Homo sapiens: one gene and its partner. The protein of the gene in region 1 interacts with the protein of each later gene in a biochemical or structural test. Each region holds a gene or a part of one and is shown in the gene's direction. Other genes may lie near its edges. The genes, in order: CA2 and SLC9A1.

The links.
Region 2: the proteins of CA2 (region 1) and SLC9A1 form a complex in vitro, tested with the Homo sapiens proteins (one study listed by BioGRID).

What each region holds. Positions count from the first base shown.
Region 1 is NC_000008.11:85,459,774-85,467,184, forward strand, and holds the start of CA2 (carbonic anhydrase 2), read left to right. Parts: upstream 1-4,233; 5' UTR 4,234-4,308; coding exon 4,309-4,342; intron 4,343-4,454; exon of another isoform or gene 4,455-4,560; intron 4,561-4,808; exon of another isoform or gene 4,809-5,142; intron 5,143-5,498; coding exon 5,499-5,696; intron 5,697-7,411. UniProt on the Homo sapiens protein: Catalyzes the reversible hydration of carbon dioxide. Can also hydrate cyanamide to urea. Stimulates the chloride-bicarbonate exchange activity of SLC26A6. Essential for bone resorption and osteoclast differentiation.
Region 2 is NC_000001.11:27,098,112-27,103,212, reverse strand, and holds the end of SLC9A1 (sodium/hydrogen exchanger 1), read left to right. Parts: intron 1-469; coding exon 470-540; intron 541-654; coding exon 655-828; intron 829-1,082; coding exon 1,083-1,197; intron 1,198-1,386; coding exon 1,387-1,488; intron 1,489-1,937; coding exon 1,938-2,010; intron 2,011-2,568; coding exon 2,569-2,906; 3' UTR 2,907-4,404; downstream 4,405-5,101. UniProt on the Homo sapiens protein: Electroneutral Na(+) /H(+) antiporter that extrudes Na(+) in exchange for external protons driven by the inward sodium ion chemical gradient, protecting cells from acidification that occurs from metabolism.

The sequences.
Region 1 (7,411 bases):
GGCTATAGCCTCTGTGCTGATGCCTGACACATAATAGCATTCAGAATGATTCATTGAGTGAATGGATGATGAGACAAGTTATCTTGTGTAGCTCACCTAGCACATAGAAAATATTAAGCACAAAATAGGAGCTGAGAAACATGTAACGGTAGTAATGATAACTGACATTGATCAAGCTCTAATTATTGGCACTAGGTTAAATCCTTCACACACTGTATCATCTTAGTCCTCACCACAACTCTGTGAGGTAAGTATTATTATTATCCTAGTTTTATAGATGAGGAAACTGAATCTTAGCACAATCAAGAAATTTGCCCAAAGTCACAAAGCTAGTAAATTAACCCAGATTCAAAACCAACCTAATTTCAGCACAATGTTATTTGCTAACTATAATCTGTAACAAAATTATTTACTAACTTCTGCAAAGTGAAACTGCCATTATCTCCATTTGGATTTTTCAAAGTTTATAATTTCAAGGAGTACTATGTGAGTAACTACTATATGTATCTTGGGACTCAGGCTAGGTAAAGGGTACTAGGTGCCTAAGATACAGAGATAAATAATGTGACACAGTACTCAACTTCAGGGGGCACAGTTTAGGAAGAAAAACATAAGCGTGGTAGAATGGACATCTCCATGACCCAAACACTCCTCTGTCCTCTCACAAAAAAAAACAAAACAAAACAAACAAAAAAACACCTCCTGCTGTGGAGACTCATTCCTCTTAAATGTTTCCCATGAACCTGGCCCAGGTGTTTAATTTTGCATTCCTTAAATTATATTCTAACTGTTTAGCACTGTCTAGGAGGGACTGAATAGCCATCATTTACTGAGTGCCTACACGTGACAGGTGATTTATCTATGCTCACTGACTGAATTCTTACAACAATGAGGTGAGTGTCATTATTCCTGCTTTACAAATGAGCAGTCAACAGCTTATTGGGGCATTGGATTATAACCCAATGATTACAATAGAGTGTCTGATTACAATGCAGAATTGCCAATATTAGGATAGAAGGATGTGTATGCAAAGACCTATGGGAGCCCCAAGAAACAAATGGCTCTTGGCCTTCATAGATATTTATTTATTTTTATTTTGTTTGAGACAGTGTCTTCCTGTTTCCCAGTCTGGAGTGCAGTCGCATGATCATGGCTCACTGCAGCCTCAACCTCCTGGGTTCCGATCTGCCGACCTTAGCCTCCTAAGCAGCTGGGACTACAGGGGCACACCACCATGCCTGGCTAACTTCTTATTTTTTGTAAAGATGGGGTTTTGCCATGTTGCCCAGGCTGGTCTTGAGCTCCTGACCTCAAGCGATCCGCCTGCCTTGGCCTCCCAAAGTGCTGGGATTACAGGCGGGAGCCACTGAGTCCAGCCCCAGATATCTACTTAAACACTATAATGGTAACAAATATGAGAATATCTGGCTTTTTATTAGCTTTTTAATTAAATATTTAATAAATAATGTGTATCTCACCTTGTAAAATATTTTAACAATATCTTTACATTTTTTGAGAAAAAGCAAATACTTTCACATTTTTACTAAGAATAATATGTTAGAAGCTTTTTTATTATAATAATTGGAACACAGACTTTAAGTTTTTTTACATTACATTTTCCTGATATACTGCCTGAATTTTTTTTTTTCTGGGGCAAAGAAAAGTACTTTTCTTAAGCTACTGTCAGTTCCTTTACTTAAGATTATTCTGAAATGAACCCATCCTTCCCTCTAATGGAAAGATAGGTACATAATAAGATAAGCACTTTTTTTATTTGAACAAATCCAGTATTAGAGTAGTCTTTTGCAGCTAGTGAATCATGACAGCCTGCTAAGAAGAATGCCTTCAGTAAAATAAAGTTAGGTTGGGACTGACCAACATGAATGCATAAAGTTAACTCCATTAAAAAAAATTGACCAGGAAAATAAAACAATGCTAAGCCAACCACTGTAATACCAAAAACGCTGCTAAAAAATTTAGATTGCTTCTGAGTAACCAAAGGTGAACCACTCTCCACCCTGTGGTGAACATGTGACACTCTCCCTAACAGCAGCTCTGTGGGGAGGGCTTGCTCCCACTGAGAATTAATTCACTTTCCAGAAGTGAGAGATAAGGAAAAATTCCCATGACAATAATCCATTTGGTGAACTGCAGTTTGGTGGTGTTTGAAGTTTTACGCATATTTAAGAATCAAACATGCTCTTACTTCATCCCTGTTAGGAAAGCCACAATCCAGTTTCACGGAAAATGAAAGACAAGGATTCCTGCTGATCAAATCGCCTGGCTCCCTCCACAGAATCCCGGGAAGCCACTCTACATTCACAAACTTTGCACTCAATTCTTGGCACCTATCAACGCCATATCTCCAGGGCCAAGTGAAGAGTCTCATAGCAACTAAGTTAATATTTGAAAATTATGTAAAGAAACAAAATTACATCAATGGGCCCCAACAGATACAATGCACCTACAGAGGCACAAATAAAAGCTTCTTCTTTGCTACAAACTCCATTTTGTAATGGTCCTAAAAATTTAAAAACTTTATTGCTGCTTTCTTGCCTAAGAATTCCCTGTGACATCAACCCAAAACCCACATAAGCAGAAGTACACAATTTTCTAGAATCTTAGAACAAGTAAGTCTAAACATGAATCATATTTGTTTGGATGAAATTGACTGAAATAAATAGTAAAGAGTGATTTTGAGATACATATTGCAAAAATGTCCACTAATAACTTATCCTTGTATTTATCTGTATATTTTCAAAGGTAAGTAATGTGATGTCAAGGCCGACACAATCACATTAAACTGTGTCCTGCTTCCCCAACTGTAACTCTAATACTATTGCCCTCAGAGATTGCAGAGACCACAGAACCGAACTCCTTCCCACAAACCCCCGGATTTTTCTGTGGCAAAATCCCTTGTAGGAAATGAATTCTCTCTATATCTCAAAACAGCCTCACTTACCCAGTAGGCCCTGTAAGCACAGTGTCTCAGGTCCACAATACTTTTAGATGCCCAGGAAAATGTTTCCTTTTAAAATAAGAACAAAAAAGAAAAAAATTAGGTGTTGGTTAAAGAAAATGTTTAAATATATAATATTAAGATATTTATCTTTATGTCAGTGTTGGTATAAATGCGTGTTTATGAAAAAGGGACCCACCAAGGTGAAATGCCGTAGGACCCACAAATGTCATAATGCTGGCTGGCCTCAAAATGTCCTTCCTATTAAACTATTTTGAATGATTCCTAGGTATGCCAGATGCCAATTTTTCTTGGCCAGCCAGGGAACGTCTCATGTCTTTGGAAGAAATTATCTTTCTCTTACTGGATTCTTCTGAGAAAAGTGATTTGTTAAAAGTTTTGGTTATTTCAAATCAATATGTACTCAACTAGGACGTCTCCTCACCCACGTTAATTTTTTAAAGAGGAGGAAAGTAGGAGAAGATGAGCGCTTCATGTAAGGCTCTGCCAGCCTACGAGGAAATGCAATCCTCCAGGCTCGCCCGAGCGTGGGCTGCGGGCAGGGGACTGTGGGGCCGTTGTCTCGTTTTATTCCACGGCCGTGCAGCAGAGGGCGCGTGCCTCTCAGCACTCATGCTGCGCGCTCCCCTGCGCCTCTAGGATCGTATCCCTATTTGCCCCAAGGTCATAGCTCCTAACCCAGCTTGCCAGCCCCAGGCCGGGGACACCAGAGACTGAGCCCTTCGCGCTGGAGACCCCGGCGCGGGTGGGGCGGGAGGGCTCCGGGGCCAAGAGACAGGTCACAATGGGGACAGGGGACGAAAGGCGCCGGGGGTCCGGGTCCCGAGCAGTCCCCGCCGCCGCCAGACTCCGCAGCCGGGAGGGGGATGGGGTGCGCGTAGAGGCTCCGCGGCCCGGGTTGGACGGAGGAGCCCAGGAGCCACCGCAGCCGCCGCACGCCCAGAGCTCCGAGCTTCGCTGCCAGCCCAGGACACCGGGGCCCTGCCGTGGGCCGAGGGGAGCCGGGCGGCGGGAGAGGAGCCCCGGAGCCCCGGAGCCCCGGAGCCCCGCCGGGCGCCAGCCGAGAGGGCGTTTTCCCCGCCCCCGGAGACTCGCCCGCCCGGCCCGCCCCGCCCCGAGCGCGGGGAGTTCACCTCCGCCCGTCACCACCTCCCCTTGTCGCCTAGGTCCACCCGAGCCCCCTCCCCCGGGCCGCCCCCGAGCACGAAGTTGGCGGGAGCCTATAAAAGCTGGTGCCGGCGCGACCCGCGGACACACAGTGCAGGCGCCCAAGCCGCCGCCGCCAGATCGGTGCCGATTCCTGCCCTGCCCCGACCGCCAGCGCGACCATGTCCCATCACTGGGGGTACGGCAAACACAACGGTGAGTGCCGGCGACGGCCAGCGCGGGGGCGCCCCGATCCCCGATCCCCGATCCCCGATCCCCGAGCCCGGATGCCGGCCCGGGGCCCGCAGCGCCCGCACATGCTGTTTACCGCGGCCGCGGGGAGTGCTGGAGGCTCAGGTGCGCCCCGGGCGCTCGCTCCGCTCGCGGCTCCGCGGCGCCGGGGATGTCCCCCTTGCCCCAGCTGCGAGGCCACTGTGGAGGAATCCCCGCGTCCGCCGGAGGCGCGTAGGGCCCGAGGGAGGGGAGGCGCAGCCCTGGCCGCGGGACCCGAGGACAGTCCCTCCCGGGTCCCGACCTGGGGATCATTTTAACCGGACCTAGGAGGAGGCGGGAAAGGGTTGTAACGGAAAATTCTAGTTGTTGATCGCAGAGAAATTAAGAGACTCCCCTCCCCCCTCCCCCACCTTCCACCCCCACCCCACCCCTCCAGCTTCAGCACCACCTGTGGCTAAGGCGCTCAGCACGAACTGTCCCGGGGCATTTTCCAGTGCTGGTTTGAATCCATGGCTCTGATTTCCGAGTTTTCCCTTCATCTCTCGACTTCTAATGTTAGGGGGTCGGACATCAGGAATCGGGTTTTATCTTGGCCTCAGATCTGGTTCTTCGGAGCCAGCGGAGCAGAGGAGCATGCGTCTGGCGCACCTAGCGCATCTTTGGAGGGTGTGGGGCTTCCCAGGTAGTGGGGAACCCTGACGGTTAAAGGTGGGGTGGGCCCGGGCCTGGGCAGTGAGGAAAGGATCCAGACCTCCTTGAATGTCTTAAGTGAGCTTGCATATCCCAAAATCGCAACCACAAGCCCTGACATTAGTGTCTGCCCGATTTCAGTTGCTGAATTTCAGTAAAACGACCTTAAAATAGCTAATATTTATATAGCACTCAGTGATCTAAGAGCTTTACATATATCGATTCTAATTCTTACAGCGACATCTATGAGGTAGATTTCTAATTATCCCATATTACAAATGTGGAAACTGAGGCACAGATTACGTGTTTTCCCAAAATTTAGCCCATTGTTAAGTGATGCTTCTAAAATTGGAACTGAGCAGATTGGCTCCGGAATGATTGCTCTTCTCTAGGGGTCTGGGTGTACCTTTCCCCACAATGGGGGATTCACATGTCTTCTTTCCCCCAGGACCTGAGCACTGGCATAAGGACTTCCCCATTGCCAAGGGAGAGCGCCAGTCCCCTGTTGACATCGACACTCATACAGCCAAGTATGACCCTTCCCTGAAGCCCCTGTCTGTTTCCTATGATCAAGCAACTTCCCTGAGGATCCTCAACAATGGTCATGCTTTCAACGTGGAGTTTGATGACTCTCAGGACAAAGCAGGTCAGTGTTTAGAAAATAACTTGTGTCTTTTAGCCAGTAGCTGTTTTCCGAGCTTAATGGAAGGAGCCAGGAACAGTGGCAGGAACCCTCTTAATAATACAGTTTGTCTCAGGACTCAAGGATGCCACCCTGATCATTTTCATTAGGTCTCAGATTCTGAGAAGTAGGCTAATTAGTTTGAAGTGTCCCGGGGCCGTTTCTTCCCTGTAAAACCCTTGGCTTCTATGAAGGCCATTGAATAACTGCGATATGCCTGTGAAAAATCACAAAAGGTGCAAAGTCCCCTCGCAATAAAGATCAGTCACGATGAGATTTGCACCAATTGAACTTTTAAGATTGTAAAATATTTTGTCTTGCAGAGCTGATGCATATCCATTAAAAAGTATATCTTAGTGAGCCTTATCTTCAAGTTAGCAGCGAGAAGAGTAACAAAAACGTGCCAATTTAAAATACTGAAATTCTGGGAAAATGTTTTACTTATGAGTATTTCTTAGTATTGGGCTAGTGTGATAAAGATGGCAGCATGTTTTGATATCTACTCAGAAATTCATTTCACAAACGAAGATGTTTTAGAGTTGGTGAACATACCTGGCCCATTACTGACAAAACCAATTACCGTATTTATTGGTAATAGAGCTGTTTACAGGATGCTCACTGTAAAAAAAAAAAAAAAAAGAAAGAGAAAGAAGAAAAAAAATCCTGCTTTTTTTTTTTTATCTCTCTCTCTTTTGAAACAAGAGAACAATCCCATTCACACATAGTAGCTGCCTTCTTTGCTAAGCAGTTAATTTAATTGCCAGTGCCCTATTTTCCTGAGTGCTTTCCTCTGAAGGTCATAGAATGAAATGGTGCTGCAAACACATTTTGTTTGGTGGTGGTGTGGGAGTGAGGGGAGTGGTGGAACAAAATGAGAAAGTTTTGGAGTAGTGACCTACGGTACTAATATATTATATAATATGTAATTATAACCATTTAGTCAGGTAGACTATTCTTTGTCAGCAGCTATCCTATATAGTCAACTTGGTTTTGAAAAAAGAATTCTTCCCTCCTTTCAACTTTAAAAAAATTTGCAAACACCTGGCTTTCTGAAATGGTGATTCTGGAAGACAATTTGATGGGGGATAATGTGGAGATCATCTGAGAAATGTTTTCAACCTACCTGTGCCTGTCTGTGTGCACCCCTCCCCAGTACACACATACATACATACATACACACACACACACACACACACACACTTACAATCATACTCACACTTTCTGGCATAGTATGATGATTTATTAGAATCAAGTAAAGGTTGTACATTGAAAACAGTTCGGTGATTCTGCTACATTGCTTTCCCAAGCATTCCTCTCACTCCAAAGGAACAGTGCTCATATAATTAAATTAAACAATTTTTTTCTTGTAAAGAATACTGTATATTTATAACAAGACAAGGCCAAAGGTCTCAAGGTATTACACATACAGAAAGAATACTATAACATTTCACGTCTAGTCATTTACAAACCAAAAGAAGTGAGCTACTTTAGTCTGTAGCTGTACTTTTTTAAAGAGCCACAATGATGTCATTGTTTTCAATGGATGTAATGTCTGCCAAATTATGTATCTCATTGGATGCTACATAGAAATTGGATAGTTTAAGTCTTTTTTGGAGCACTGAAGAAACAAATCTCCAACAAATGAAAGCAGATGAGGTTCCTAATAGTCCTTAAAAAAT
Region 2 (5,101 bases), on another chromosome or scaffold:
GCGGGCTGGGCCCTTGGTTGCAGAAGGAGGAACAGGGAGATAGGGAGCAGCTGGGCCTCAAGTCTCTGCCCCCCATCAGCCCCTTCTCCCTGTGCCAGTGCCCAGGGGCTCCCTCTGCCCCAGGAGGCCGCCAGGGTCTAGCCATAGGAAGGTGTGGTGTGAGCAGCTGGGAGCCTGAGGAGGGGGCATCATGCCATCTCTGCCTCCATTTGAAACCTATCCCAGGCATAGGTCCCAGGTGGGATTAGAGAAGGGGGCTCAGCCGGACACAGGCAAGGCTTCGAGATACCCAGAGTCAGGGCCGCTGGGTTCGATGAGTGGAGTGTGGGCGCCACCTCCTGGCTGCTCATGGAACCACAGGGCTGGACCCAGCAGGGCTGCAGCTACGGGAGGGAGTGGGGCTAGTCAGAGGTCTTGGTAGGGAAGGCGCCCCACAGCGAGGCTTGACTTGGCCCTGGGCCCCTTTCAGTTCCTGGACCACCTTCTGACAGGCATCGAAGACATCTGTGGCCACTACGGTCACCACCACTGGAAGGACAAGTAGGTGGCAGGCCTGGTGGGCAGGCAGGGAGGGGCAGGCAAGGGTCTCCTGGGCCTGGGCATCTCCCCACTCCTGGAAGCTGGCGCCATCCGTCTCCCTCCTCCTCCCACCAGGCTCAACCGGTTTAATAAGAAATATGTGAAGAAGTGTCTGATAGCTGGCGAGCGCTCCAAGGAGCCCCAGCTCATTGCCTTCTACCACAAGATGGAGATGAAGCAGGCCATCGAGCTGGTGGAGAGCGGGGGCATGGGCAAGATCCCCTCTGCCGTCTCCACCGTCTCCATGCAGTGAGTGCTGGGGCAACCAGGCAGCTTCTGCTCCCACACACCGGCCCCTCAAGCCCGGTTGGAGGTGGCCACCTGGGGGGCGGGGTCTTCTGTTGTCCTGTTGGGGCGGACAAGAGAGCTGTGGGCTCGCACCAAGGACCTGAGGCTTTGGCGCCCACCTGGGTCATCCCTAGGGTGACTTCCTTCTGGCCAAACCTGGGAGGCACCAGGATCCCAAGAATCTTGGGGACCTAACCGATGCCCTATTGCCCCAGGAACATCCACCCCAAGTCCCTGCCTTCCGAGCGCATCCTGCCAGCACTGTCCAAGGACAAGGAGGAGGAGATCCGCAAAATCCTGAGGAACAACTTGCAGAAGACCAGGCAGCGGGTGAGGGCCTGCTCCCCAGCCCGACCCCCAGGGTACAGGAGCCCTTCAGCCCCTCTCTACGGCAGCCCTGCCCTGCCCGTGCCCCTCGGCACCCACCCCAGGACTGGCCCGGCCTCCAGCACTGCCCCCACCCCTCCATGAGCAGAGCCTTCCGGGGCCCGCACTGCCCTGACGCTGTCCCTCCCACAGCTGCGGTCCTACAACAGACACACGCTGGTGGCAGACCCCTACGAGGAAGCCTGGAACCAGATGCTGCTCCGGAGGCAGAAGGCCCGGCAGCTGGAGCAGAAGGTAGCCTCTGCCTTCCTCTGGGAATCTGTATCCCACCCCACTCGCCCAAGCTCCGCCACAGCCTCTAAGGAAATGTACCCATTCTAGGAACAGGGTTTGGCTTTCGAGGGGCTTTTAGCAGTGTAAGGGCATGGAGAGCCATGAGTTCTAAGCAAGGGATTGGCGTGGGGTTGTGGGGCATGGCCTGGGTTAGGGCAGTGGCAGGGGACAGAGGAATGGGTGGATTTAAGGCTGAGCAGTGTAGGTGTATTCAGGGAGGCTGTGACAGGAGCCTGGGATGAGCCCTTAGGAGCTCCTGAGGGGCCAGTACGGGTGCCCACACAGGCACAAGGGAGGGGGAGCAAGCGCCCTGCATATACGAAAGGTGGGGTGTGCACTGGCCGGGTTCTGTCCTGAGGGGCTCCCTCTGCCCAGCTGCCTGTGCTCACCCCGTCTGTCCTCTCTGTCAGATCAACAACTACCTGACGGTGCCAGCCCACAAGCTGGACTCACCCACCATGTCTCGGGCCCGCATCGGCTCAGGTAAGGGCCTGGCGAGGGGCCTCAGGACTGGGCACTCTGAGCTGCCACCTCCTGAGGATGGGGCTCCACAGGAACAGTCCTCAGCCACTGGGAGGACAGGCCTGGCCCTCGCTGACCTCAGGATCCCCTCCCAAGCCATGAGCTGCTTCTACGTCAGGGGCCATCCCTAGGGAGAGAGACGTTCCGGGCGAGGACTGTGTGGGGAGCTGGGAGAGCCACGGTGCCTGGCAGGAAGGCAGGGTATCTGCCCCATCGAGACCCCCAACACGTGTGGGGAACGTGAGGGCAGGGCCCCAGGGCAGACTGACTCAGGGAGGAGCCCCAGGCCTTGGCCTGTGGAGGGACACCTCTGGGAGCCCCTGTCAAAGGAGAGGGCCACAGTCTGAGGAAGAGAAGCTGTGGGGTGGAAGGTCGCAGAGGCCTGCTTCTGAGGCCTGTTGGGACCGGGACGGCTGTGCTCATGAGAAGGCCTGAAGGAGGCACTGACGCGGCCGAGTGGCACGTGCTGGGCCGGGCTCCAGAGCGGAACCCAGCTTGTGCCTTGCTCTTGGTCCCCAGACCCACTGGCCTATGAGCCGAAGGAGGACCTGCCTGTCATCACCATCGACCCGGCTTCCCCGCAGTCACCCGAGTCTGTGGACCTGGTGAATGAAGAGCTGAAGGGCAAAGTCTTAGGGTTGAGCCGGGATCCTGCAAAGGTGGCTGAGGAGGACGAGGACGACGATGGGGGCATCATGATGCGGAGCAAGGAGACTTCGTCCCCAGGAACCGACGATGTCTTCACCCCCGCGCCCAGTGACAGCCCCAGCTCCCAGAGGATACAGCGCTGCCTCAGTGACCCAGGCCCACACCCTGAGCCTGGGGAGGGAGAACCGTTCTTCCCCAAGGGGCAGTAACACCAGGGCCAGCAGGCAGCGCCTGTCCCCTCACAGACTCTTCCACCAGAGCAGGGGCTGCTGGGGGCTCCCCTTGCCCTTCCTGACCCGGATTGGCCCTGCCCCTCCCCCTACCGCATGGCAGCTGGGCCCACAGCCCCCACCCCAGCACAGCTCCTCCCCTGCCGCCTCCCGGGAAGCATCCTCCCCACCAGAGCTGCCTCCCCAATCCATTTGGCAGAACTGCTGGGGCTGGTGAGGCCGGCCCTGCCCCTCCCTAGATCCAGGCTTCTCCCGGACCTGGACTAGGGCCTCGGAGGCTCCTCCCTCTGCCTCATCCTCCTCCTCATTCAGACCAATCTTAGTTTCTAACCAAAGAGTCTCTGGCTCAGCTGTGGTCCCACCCAGGAAGGGAGGGAGCTGAGGCCTCCCTTGAGTAGGCCCTGCTTTATCAGGGGACAAACCAGGGGTACCAGGCACATGGCTGGGGGAGGGACTGCTGACCCACCAAGGTCTCACACTCCTCCTGCCAGCTCTGTCACCCTGGCCACCACCCAACCTGTCCTTACTCAGAGCTGCGGGCTGAGGGCATCTCTGAGTGTCTCTGCCTGGAGCAGGGGTGGTTTCTACGGTGACAGTGACGTGACTCAGAGCTTTTCGAACTGTGCTCCCACGGGGACCACTGGGCCCCTCAGGGGAAGCTGCTAGGGGAAGGACTGGCCGTGGCTCCAGAATGTGCTGCCTTTTTAAGTTTTGTTTGTTCACACTCCTATATATGATTGTTTGCACAGAGGGCGCTCCTGTTTTTAAAACATTTTGAAAACCCCTGGCTGAACAGTGCTCTGCCTCTAACTCCCTCCTCACACTCCAGAATTACCCTTCCTCATCTGTGCCTGTCTGTCCAACCCCTCCCCCACGTCTCTCTGCCTGCTGGGCTCTTAACTGTTGCTCGAAGACTGTGACATCAGAAGTAACTCCCACTCCTAATCAAGAGTCTCTCCAGCCTCACAGATGCTGGCCTCTTGGCACCTGCCTAGCTCTTGGGCCTGACCTCCAGTCCTGCTGGCCTGCTCTTACTTCCCCCACCCTGGGTTTGGCCCCTGGAACCTTTCCCTTGTGTGTACCACACCCTGCCTGCTGTGGAGCCCATTGTGGAGGCGGTGGGGGGGAGAAGGCCTCCCCTGAGGATCCCCTGTCCCCTGGGGCTGGTGGATTGGGCAGAATCCTGGGCCCCCAGAGACCTTTGCCCACACACACTCCTTCCCCTTGTCCCTGGGGCACTCCCCCAGGATTGTGCAATAGTCAGAGTGTCCCTTTTTGCAGGGGACTGGGCCATGGGTCCTCGGCCCATCTGTCCATCCTCCTCTCCATGCAAGTGCTGTTTGGGCAGGAGTCACCATGCAAGGGTGACATCGACAACCACGTACCAAGCCACCGCAGCTGCTGCCACTCTGCTGCCTGTACAGAAGAAACTGAATCTTTTTCATATTCTAATAAATCAATGTGAGTTTTTAATAGAGTCAAGGGCTGCTTTCTGGGGACGAGGGTCTTTAGGAGGGAGGGTGGCCTGAGGGCGTGAAGTACTTAGTTCAAAGGCTGGCACAGAAACACTTCATGGCTGTCAGCTGCTGGGGTGGTTGTTCCCACATGCCAGGCACTGAGATACCACAATGAGCTAAGCAGGACGTGCCCTGCCCCGCGGGGGAGAGCGGCACTAACCAGTGCCCAGTGTTTGTGCAAGAGGTGAAAAAGAGGCAGAGGGGAGGGAGGGACGGCGAGGAGGACCCTCCTGAGTCCCGAGTGAGTGAGATCCCAGGAGGGGACTGAAGAAGGAGCCAAGGCTTCCGGGTGGAAAAGGACCCAGAAAGTTCCCAAACATTGTAACTGGGAGCTGTGCCCACGAACACTGGGACCTGAGAAAAGGCCGGGTGGCTGGGTCAGAGTGACAGGGGAGGCAAGGATGGGGCCGCGTGCTCCATGGTTAAGATTTTGCTCTTAACCGTGGGAAGACCAAAAGGGCAGTGGGAAGTCACTGAAGCCCTCAAGTTCTCACCTGTAAAGTGGGGACAGTGACCCCTGCATGAGATAAGCTCAGGTGTGTACAAACTGAGCCTCCCTAATCAGAAAACCCAACACAACGCCATGAATGGAGAATGCACACCTGACCTCATGAGACAGTCAAAACTTTGCTGCATGTGCAATATTTAAAATATATA